Regions from separate parts of the Homo sapiens genome. Here region 2 is linked to region 1. The links come from fine-mapping of genetic effects on gene expression. A gene starts in region 1. The other region holds a variant in brackets. All regions are shown on one strand. Distances are between the middles of the regions.

Region 1 (4,394 bases):
CAGGAGAATGGCGTGAACCAGGAAAGCGGAGCTTGCAGTGAGCCGAGTTCGCGCCAGTGCACTCCAGCCTGGGCGACAGAGCGCGACTCAGTCTCAAAAACAAAACAAAACAAAAAATCATTGCCTCTCCAGTGTTCTTAACTAAAGGTGCCATCTGCCTAACTTAATTTAGGAATGCCTGTATGTTTTGGTACTGTTTAAATATTCCCAGCTTTGCCACTCTCCGTCTCACACCAACATCCAGTCATCTGGAAGATCTTTCCATTCCTCCAGTTCTCTCGTAACTAAAACGATTTCAGACTTACCCCTCACTCCCACAGGTAACTCGCCCTTAACTCTTCTTGTAGAACTTAAATTTCATGTATTGTTCTCTCCTTCTGTCCCTCACTTACTTCCTAAATCTCTGGTGGATGTTCCCCTGTGGTCCTGTTACAGTTATTCTGACCTAAACAGAACTGATCACGTTGCTTACTGGGAAGATGCACATGCAATCTCTAGTGTATAGTAGGTCCTCAATAATTACTGGTGACTGGTAAAGCAGCCAAGGCCTTTGGACTATAAATCGATCTTATTCTACGTTAATAACAATATTAGCACAGGATTCTATTCCCTTGCTGGATATTATTTACATTTGATAATGAATGAACTAATTCTCTTTGACAGCAAAACATGTATTCAGCTTACAGCCGAAAATGCAAGGGAAGGTACACAATAAGACGGATCCAAGCCCTGACCCCTCTGAGCTTTAAGCCAGTCAAGTAACTACTTGTTCTGAAAAGTATTAACTGTCCTATTAACGTTAACCTTCACAACACAATGCCTTGTGTTCAACTGGCCTTGGCCTCAAAGCACTTTCCTGGCACATTCCCTGAATTTAAAGAACGGTTTCCATACAGCTGAGAGGGTCGAGGCAGGGGTAAGTGTAGAAGACGCAAGAAATGGAGACACCCTGGGAACAGAACTCTAGACTGCACTCCAACCGTAGCACTTACTAGGCATTCGACTCCAGGACCTTGACACTCGCGCTCGCTGGCGGCGAGCCCCGCCTCCCCACTGCGCCTCATCTCCCAGACAGGCCCCGCCTCCCCACTCAGGCCCCGCCTCCCCACTCAGGCCCGTCTCCTCACTCAGGCCACGCCTCCCCGCCCAGTCCCGTCTCCGTACTAGGGCTTGCTCCAAGCCCTGCTTCCTCGCCCAACCTGGCCTCCCCACTACGGCCTAACCCCAAGCCCTTCTCGTCCAGCCCCGTCTCCACACTACTGCCTGGTCCTCAACTCCGCCTCCCCACTCCGACCCCATCTCCCTGACCAGCCCCGCCTTTACGCTCAGGCTCCGCCTCCCCGCCGGGTCTTGCCTCCAAATCCCGGCCCCGCCTCCACGCGGCCCCGCCTCCACGCGGCCCCGCCTCCACGCTCGGCCTGGCCCCAAGCTCTTCCTTCCTGGGGCACTCTGTCTCCGCACTCCGGCCTGGTCCCGAGCCCCGCCCCGCCTCCACACGGCCCCGCCACCACACGGCCCCGCCTCCACGCGGCCCCGCCTCCACGCTCGGCCTGGCCCCAAGCTCTTCCTTCCTGGGGCACTCTGTCTCCGCACTCCGGCCTGGTCCCGAGCCCCGCCCCGCCTCCACACGGCCCCGCCTCCACACGGCCCCGCCTCCACACGGCCCCGCCTCCACACGGCCCCGCCTCCACACGGCCCCGCCTCCACACGGCCCCGCCTCCACACGGCCCCGCCTCCACACGGCCCCGCCTCCACACGGCCCCGCCTCCACACGGCCCCGCCTCCACGCTCGGCCTGGCCCCAAGCTCTTCCTTCCTGGGGCACCCTGCCTCCGCACTCCGCCCTGGTCCCGAGCCCCGCCCCGCCTCCACAGTCCCGAGCCCGCCTCCAACCCTGCCCTGTCCCCACACCCAGCTTGGCCCCGAGCCACGCCTCCCACCCCGCCCCCACACTCCCGAGCCCCGCCTCGTCTCCACACTCCGGCGGCGCCTCCCTACCCGGCCCCGCCTCCGCGCTCGGGCTGCCAGCCCTCCCTTGCACGTTCCGGCTCCTCTTCTATCTTCACGCCCACGCTAGGCCCTGAGCCCAGCCTCCACGTCTCGCCGCCAACTCCACATCCTGGCTCCTATCTCTGCCTTCCAGGCATCTCCCAGCTGCACGCTCGGGCCCGGCTCAGAGCCCTAAGCCCTGCCTCCCGGTCCTGGCCGGGTTTCCCAGAACTGCACGGCGCCTCTCCGCCCAGGCCCAAGCGCGAGCCCCTCCTCCACACCCGAGTCCGAGCCCCGCGTCCCGGATTCGGACCCGCCTGCCTGGGGCGGTGCTGCACCAGGTGCGGGTGTGGCAGGCGTCTCGGAGCGCCAGGTGCAGCTTCCTGGTCAAGATGGTCGCCGCCTGCCGCTCGGTAGCCGGGCTCCTGCCACGCCGCCGCCGCTGCTTTCCCGCCCGGGCCCCGCTGCTGCGCGTCGCCCTCTGCCTCCTGTGCTGGACCCCGGCGGCTGTGCGCGCGGTCCCTGAGCTCGGGCTCTGGTTAGAGACAGTCAACGACGTAAGTGGAGTGTCGGGACCCAGGCGTGGCACGTCTCGGGCCGTCAGGGCCGTCGTGCGGCTTCGCTTGACCCCGGGCTTGTTCACCCTGCCTCTGCCGGGTCAGCACCGGGTCCCCTGATACCCTCCCTGAGCCTTTTGTCTGTTACAGCCGGGGAGCGGGGAGCGGCCCCTCCTCCGGCCCGACCTGGGCTGCAGGCAAGAGCCGTCAGGATTGCGCATGGGACGGCCCTCGGGTCCGAGCGCTCGGACTGTTACTGAGGGTCACCATGCCCGACGCCGTGGCCCTCATTCTGCTCTGACATGTTTTGGCTGGATCAGGAATCTCTCGGCACATCTAGCAGCATCTTTGGGATTCGACTCTTCCTGTCCGGATGCAGCCACAGTGGGCCACACCCCTGAGGCCGCAGGGAGGACTTGCCAGCGCTTCAGTTTCTGCATAAACTTAGAAAGCGGGTCTGCCGCTTCCTTAAAAAAAAAAAAGAAAGAAAAAATTTAAATGAGGGGGAAACGTGCAGTAGTCACCCTACCTCTATTTCTCTCTTCTTGAGTTCCTGAATTTCTCTACAGTTCCTGTCACAGTTCCGGGAGAGAGAGTGTGTGTGTAGGTGGGGCGGGACTTGTGATTAGGGAGTGCTTGAAAGGCGAATCTGGAGGCATGAGTGGGTGGAAACTCTTCTTTCCAAGGCAGGCTATTAGAAAACTTGGCGTCTGGTAATTAGAGGAGATGATGTGGGAGAGATGCAGGGGCAGAATTATGGAAAGTCTTGCAAAAGAGAGACAGGAAGTCTGGAAGAGGCATTATCTCCGGCTTCTCTGGGGTCAGATGACTCATCCAGCACTGTTTGGGATGGGTATTTTCCACATGCATGAAATAATGTCCAGGTTCTAAAGATGAGACTTATATTTTGATTTCCTTAACCAGAAAAAGAAAGTAGTTCCAAAGACTACAAATACTTCCCACAACACAAAAGCTACTCAGAGGAACACGCTGGGTATCTTTCTGGATCTTTTAAGACCTAGTGCAGCCATTTCCTCCAGGATTGGATTCTTCTGGGTTGGTGACCTAATTTGTGTGCCAGTTATAGTCTGCACATCTCCATTATTTAATTTCCTGAACGGGAAAAAGTAGAACTCAGTGAACTACTCTCATGGCTTCCTGCTGCTACGATAGTGAATAGTCAATATAACTATATTGGAAGTGAATCAGTTGCATGCATATTGTTGGATTACTTGAACATATCTGTATAGATCTTTGCTAAGTGTACTGTGAACATACCTGCAAAGATCTTTGCCAAGTGTACTTCTTCCTGCATGAGGAAGAGAAGTTTGCTCCTTGAGTGCTGCATGACCTTTAGGCTAATTTTACTCCTGTGTGACCCTGGGCCGCCAGAAGTCTAAAAGCCCTTCTCTCCCAAGAGTGGACTTATATTTTCCACATTTCAGGTTGTCAGAAACAGGAAAGGAGAGTGGGGCTTTCTTTCATTTGTACTGCAAATCTATCAGGAAATTTTGTTTCTTTGTTTTTGTTTGTTTGAGACAGAGTCTTGTTCTGTTACCTAGGCTGGAGTGCAGTGGCACAGTCATATGGCTCACTGCAGCCTCAAACTCCTGGGCTCAAGCAATCCTCTAGTCTCAGTCTCCTGCGTAGCGAAGACTATAGGTACATGCCACACACCAGTTAATTTTTAAATTTTTTTGTAGAGATAGGGGTCTCACTATATTGTCAAGGCTGGTCTTTAACTGCTGGCCTCAAGCCATCCTCCTGCCTCAGCCTCCCAAAGTATTGGGATTACAGGCATGAGCCACTACACCTGGCCAAGAAATGGTTCTTTTGAGTGTACAAGGGA
Region 2 (4,394 bases), 63 kb after region 1:
CTCTGTGTCTTAGGTTTACTAGATGCAATAATACTTCTCTTTGACATTTGTACTGAAGTGATTTGATATTAAGTAAAACAGTTAATGTTTGAATATAGGCATATTTATAGGTTTTTTCCGCTCCCCCCCAACCCACCCTTTTTAAAAAATCTATACAAAGCCCTTGTTTGAGTCTCATCATGCACATCAAATCATGGAGTTAGGTCTTCTCTGAGCTCAGGGGAACACAAGTGCACAGAGAGAGATGTCTTGAGGGTCACTACCAAAGAATTACCCTCATTGTCCCTCACTCAGGCCATGTGTACATGCGATGCTGCTGAGTGTGCTGGGGTGGGTGGTGGCCACGTGGCTCCCCCAGAGCACTTCCTAACTGGCAAGCTGGGAGACCCATTACTGGTGAACTTTGTGGAAATTAGAACTGTATCTTTTACATAATCTTGGCATATTACATTTCATAATAAAAACATACATTTAGTTGCATGCTACATCACTATTGATTTTATAATTAATTTCTTAAGCTTCAACCATGTTTTATACCTTATTTCGTTACATCATATATTTGTAATGTGTAATATGAAATCTTTTGCTTTAATGTCTTTTTTTAAAATGTAGAATGTTCTAAACTTGAAAGGCAATTGAATGTAGTATGATGAAAATGTGAATGTTTTGCTGCTTTCATGACCAAAGATACAGGGCTAGTGGACATTTAGAATAATAATTAAAGCTAGAGTCTTGTATGTCTTTTCTTTGAAGGAGTTCTAACCTTGTAAATTGAGAATGACTTCAGAGAATTTTGATTAAGAAAACATTAAAATCTTAACCGGCACAAACACTCCAATTTTTTTCACTGTGAAGCCGCAAGCAATTTTTTTTCTTTTTCTTTCAAAAGCCTACCTTCTGAATTTATTTCTTGTTTACTCATTTCAGAGAGGGTAGTAAAGAAGATCTATTTCTGGTAGTCATATCGCTTGAAAGGTATTGGTAAATGTGTTTTCAGTCGTGACCATGTGGAAAGTGAACAGTGTTGGCAAACATTACCGAGAAAATCATGCTTTTCAAGATGCCCTTGCTTTGGGATATCCTTCCTAGGGAGAAAAAAAAAAAGTAGTTTAACAATTGTGAATTCCATTTCTTATTTCAGTTTCTGCTGCAGTAATGGGTTCCCACCCACTATAATTCCCAGCATTTATGTTCTGTTGTATTCTCCCCTTAGCCCAGTAACATTTTTATCTAATACCCCATTCCCCAAGTTTTGAGACAGATTGACCCCCTACTCATTATGTGGCTCTAGTTGAATTTTAAAATGTGGAATATTGGGCTTGCAGGCAGTAGGAGCTGCAAATCTGGTAGAGTGGGAGTGTGGAGTTAATGGTGAGTATGTTAATAAAGGGAAACTGTCTCTGACAGAATCTCAGTAATGTTTACCAAAACATGTCTTTCTACAGCTGGTAGGATAAATGATGCTACCCTGTAGCTCAGCTACAGGCTGCAGTGCAAACTTTTCTTCCATCCAGAGAAAGCAGAATTCCCTCCTAGTAACCTCATTACAAATACTGTTACTAGAAGGGCATGTGCTGTCTGTCACCTTCAGTAATATTTGTGCCATCTCTTGATGACTGATGACCTGGATCGAGTATTTCTATGAAGGGTCTTCTTAGGCCCCTTACATACGCAAGAGGGGTGCTCTAGTGCCATAGCTGTAGTTCACAGGAAGGACACCAGGAGAAGTTATACCTAGGGCTACTGAGCAGCTCATCATCCCTGTTTCTGCACAGTTTCCTGAAACTGGCCATCAGGGCCTCTGAGGCACTCAAATCAGTTTACTTTTAGCATGCCCCCATCAGGGTGGGTCTCACTGTTAGTGAGGATACGGGTCTGGTTTGATGTTTTTC[T/C]AGGCAAAATGCTTAAGTGTTCTGGTTATGCCATTCATTCATACGATGTGTGAAATTTGCTTAAAAGGGAATTTTCATGATTTGATTTAGATTAGTATTTAAATATCTGCTTTAGATAGCAATTAATTTTATTGTAAAAATAAGGAAAAATATGTGAATATGTGAATTTTTTAAGCCTGAGAGATGATAGAATGTTCCCATATTTTTCTTGTAAAGAAAATAATATTTTAACTTACACATCCTGTAGAAAATACCACCTTTTCCCCTTGTATTACAGTACAATGTTTACATTACTATACTGTCAAGCTGAAAGTATAAAAAATGTACATATACATTTTGAGTTATGTATCCTTTTTTTAAAAAAAAGTTCGAGTCTGTTGCACTAGGCTGTACATGACTAAAGTTGACAGATGCTATGCTAGATTTATAATCACTAGTTCTGGTACTTGTGTCTTTGTATGATCAAAGCATGCAATAAGCAATACAAAATACCAAGCCTTATACTTAAAAGAAGTTTAACATATTGGTTAATATACTGGTTAATATACTGGTTAAACATATTGAATGTATATAAGTGGCAAAACTAGATTTTTAAGGAAGTGTACATTATAATATTGGAGCTCAGTACTGCATGAAGAGACTTCATTAAAACTAAGAAAACATTTATTTGGGGAGAAATTTTAGGCATTTAAGAACTTGTATTTTTCTATTTTAAAAAGTTAAATTATTCCGTAATTTGGAAGAAGTTTCGTTGAATGTAGGACATAACCGTTTGAAGGGTTTTCATTTGAAAAATTGATGTATTTTGTGCCTTAATATTTTGTTCTTTTAATAAAAATGCTCTGAATTTGAATGATTGATTCTTGATAGTATTTATTGGTGCTAGATTATATAAATCTGTAGGACATATAGACATATATAGACTCCAATAGATGGCAGGACATAAAATTCTTAAAACAGGAGGCACAGCTAATCAAACATGGAAAAGTGCTCAACCTCAGTAGTAGTAAAGAAATGCAAAACAAAAGATAGGGGATAGTTTAAAAAATCAAATTAACATAAGTTTGTACTATGGTATATTTGTAAAATCCTTTTGCTTTCAAAGTCTGATGAAATGAGCACACTTATTAATGATGGTAATATAGTTGATTTCCTTTTTTGTGAAAAGTTCAACAATGTGTTTATAACCTTTGAATAATGTCAATTCTGGTGATATTTTAAAAAATGATTCAAAATACAGAATAAAGTTTCTCCACAAAAGTGTTTATTATAATATTAAAGTAGAAATAAAATTAGAGACAAACAATATCATAGTTAAGTGAATTATGGTTTAACCAGCTACTTTATGAGATATTGTATAGCCATTAAATTATGAAGAATTTATAATAAAAATACTTATAAGAACTGTGATGCAGTGGCACATATGTGAATGCTTATCTATGTAAAAATAAGGTAGAGCAACTTACTCTCATGGTTCAGAAAAAATGCATTCTATCTTCCAACTTTTCTGTAAAGTTACAGAATTAAGTAATTACATAATTCTTAATTACATAAATAATTACATAATTAATTATTATTTTGAAATAAAGATAATTTAAAAAAAAAAAGGCCGGGCGTAGTGGCTCACGCCTGTAATCCCAGCACTTTGGGAGGCCAAGGTGGGTGGATCACAAGGTCAGGAGATCGAGACCATCCTGGCCAACATGGTGAAACCCTGTCTCTACTAAAAAAAAAATACAAAAAATTAGCCGGGCGTGGTGGCGGGCGCCTGTAGTCCCAGCTACTCGGGAGGCTGAGGCAGGAGAATGGCGTGAACCCGGGAGGCAGAGCTTGCAGTGAGCTGAGATTGGGCCACTGCACTCCAGCCTGGGCGACAGAGCGAGACTCCGTCTCAAAAAAAAAAAAAAAAAAAAAGTAGAGAAAGGATTGAGTGGAAAAGCACTGGGGTGGCATACATGGTTAGTGTTGAGGCTCAGCCAGGCTGTGGTCACAACTTGATTTTAGCCTTTCAGAAACTTAAGACAAAAAGTTTATTTCTTGCTCATGTGACAATTCTTCAGTAGGTATAGAGGTGGGAAGGGCCACCCTCCTCCACATGTCCCTCAGACACCCGGGGTTTATTTCCATCTTGCGGACCCACCATACCCTAGGGCCTAATTTTTACCCCTAATTTTCTAAGAAACATATTCAACATAAATATGTAAAAATAATAGTGCCTTGGCCAGGCGCAGTGGCTCACACCTGTAATCCCAGCACTTTGGGAGGCCGAGATGGGTGGGTCACGAGGTCAGGAGATCGATACCATTCTGGCTAACACAGTGAAACCGCATCTCTACTAAAGATAGAAAAAAATTAGCTGGGCATGGTGGCAGGCACCTGTAGTCCCAGCTACTCGGGAGGCTAAGGCAGGAGAATGGCGTGAATCTGGGAGGCGGAGCTTGCAGTGAGCCGAGATTGTGCCACTGCACTCCAGCCTGGGCGACAGAGCGAGACTCTCAATAA

The links. PIP is the estimated chance that this variant, and not a neighbour inherited with it, causes the effect.
Region 2: its variant is fine-mapped to the expression of TMEM87B in fibroblasts (GTEx, PIP above 0.99).

Annotation. Positions count from the first base shown.
Region 1 is chr2:112,053,212-112,057,605 of GRCh38, forward strand. TMEM87B (transmembrane protein 87B) reads left to right here and starts at 2,058. Exons shown (of 19, transcript NM_032824.3): 1 at 2,058-2,545. The coding sequence starts at 2,381. RefSeq lists silencers at 1,050-1,099, 1,300-2,029 and enhancers at 2,760-2,829, 2,860-3,199.
Region 2 is chr2:112,116,570-112,120,963 of GRCh38, forward strand. It overlaps TMEM87B (transmembrane protein 87B), which reads left to right. Exons shown (of 19, transcript NM_032824.3): 19 at 1-2,745. Among named protein-coding and RNA genes, the nearest start is that of FBLN7, 20 kb to the right of the region's middle. The variant T/C (reference allele first, on the strand shown) is at 1,893.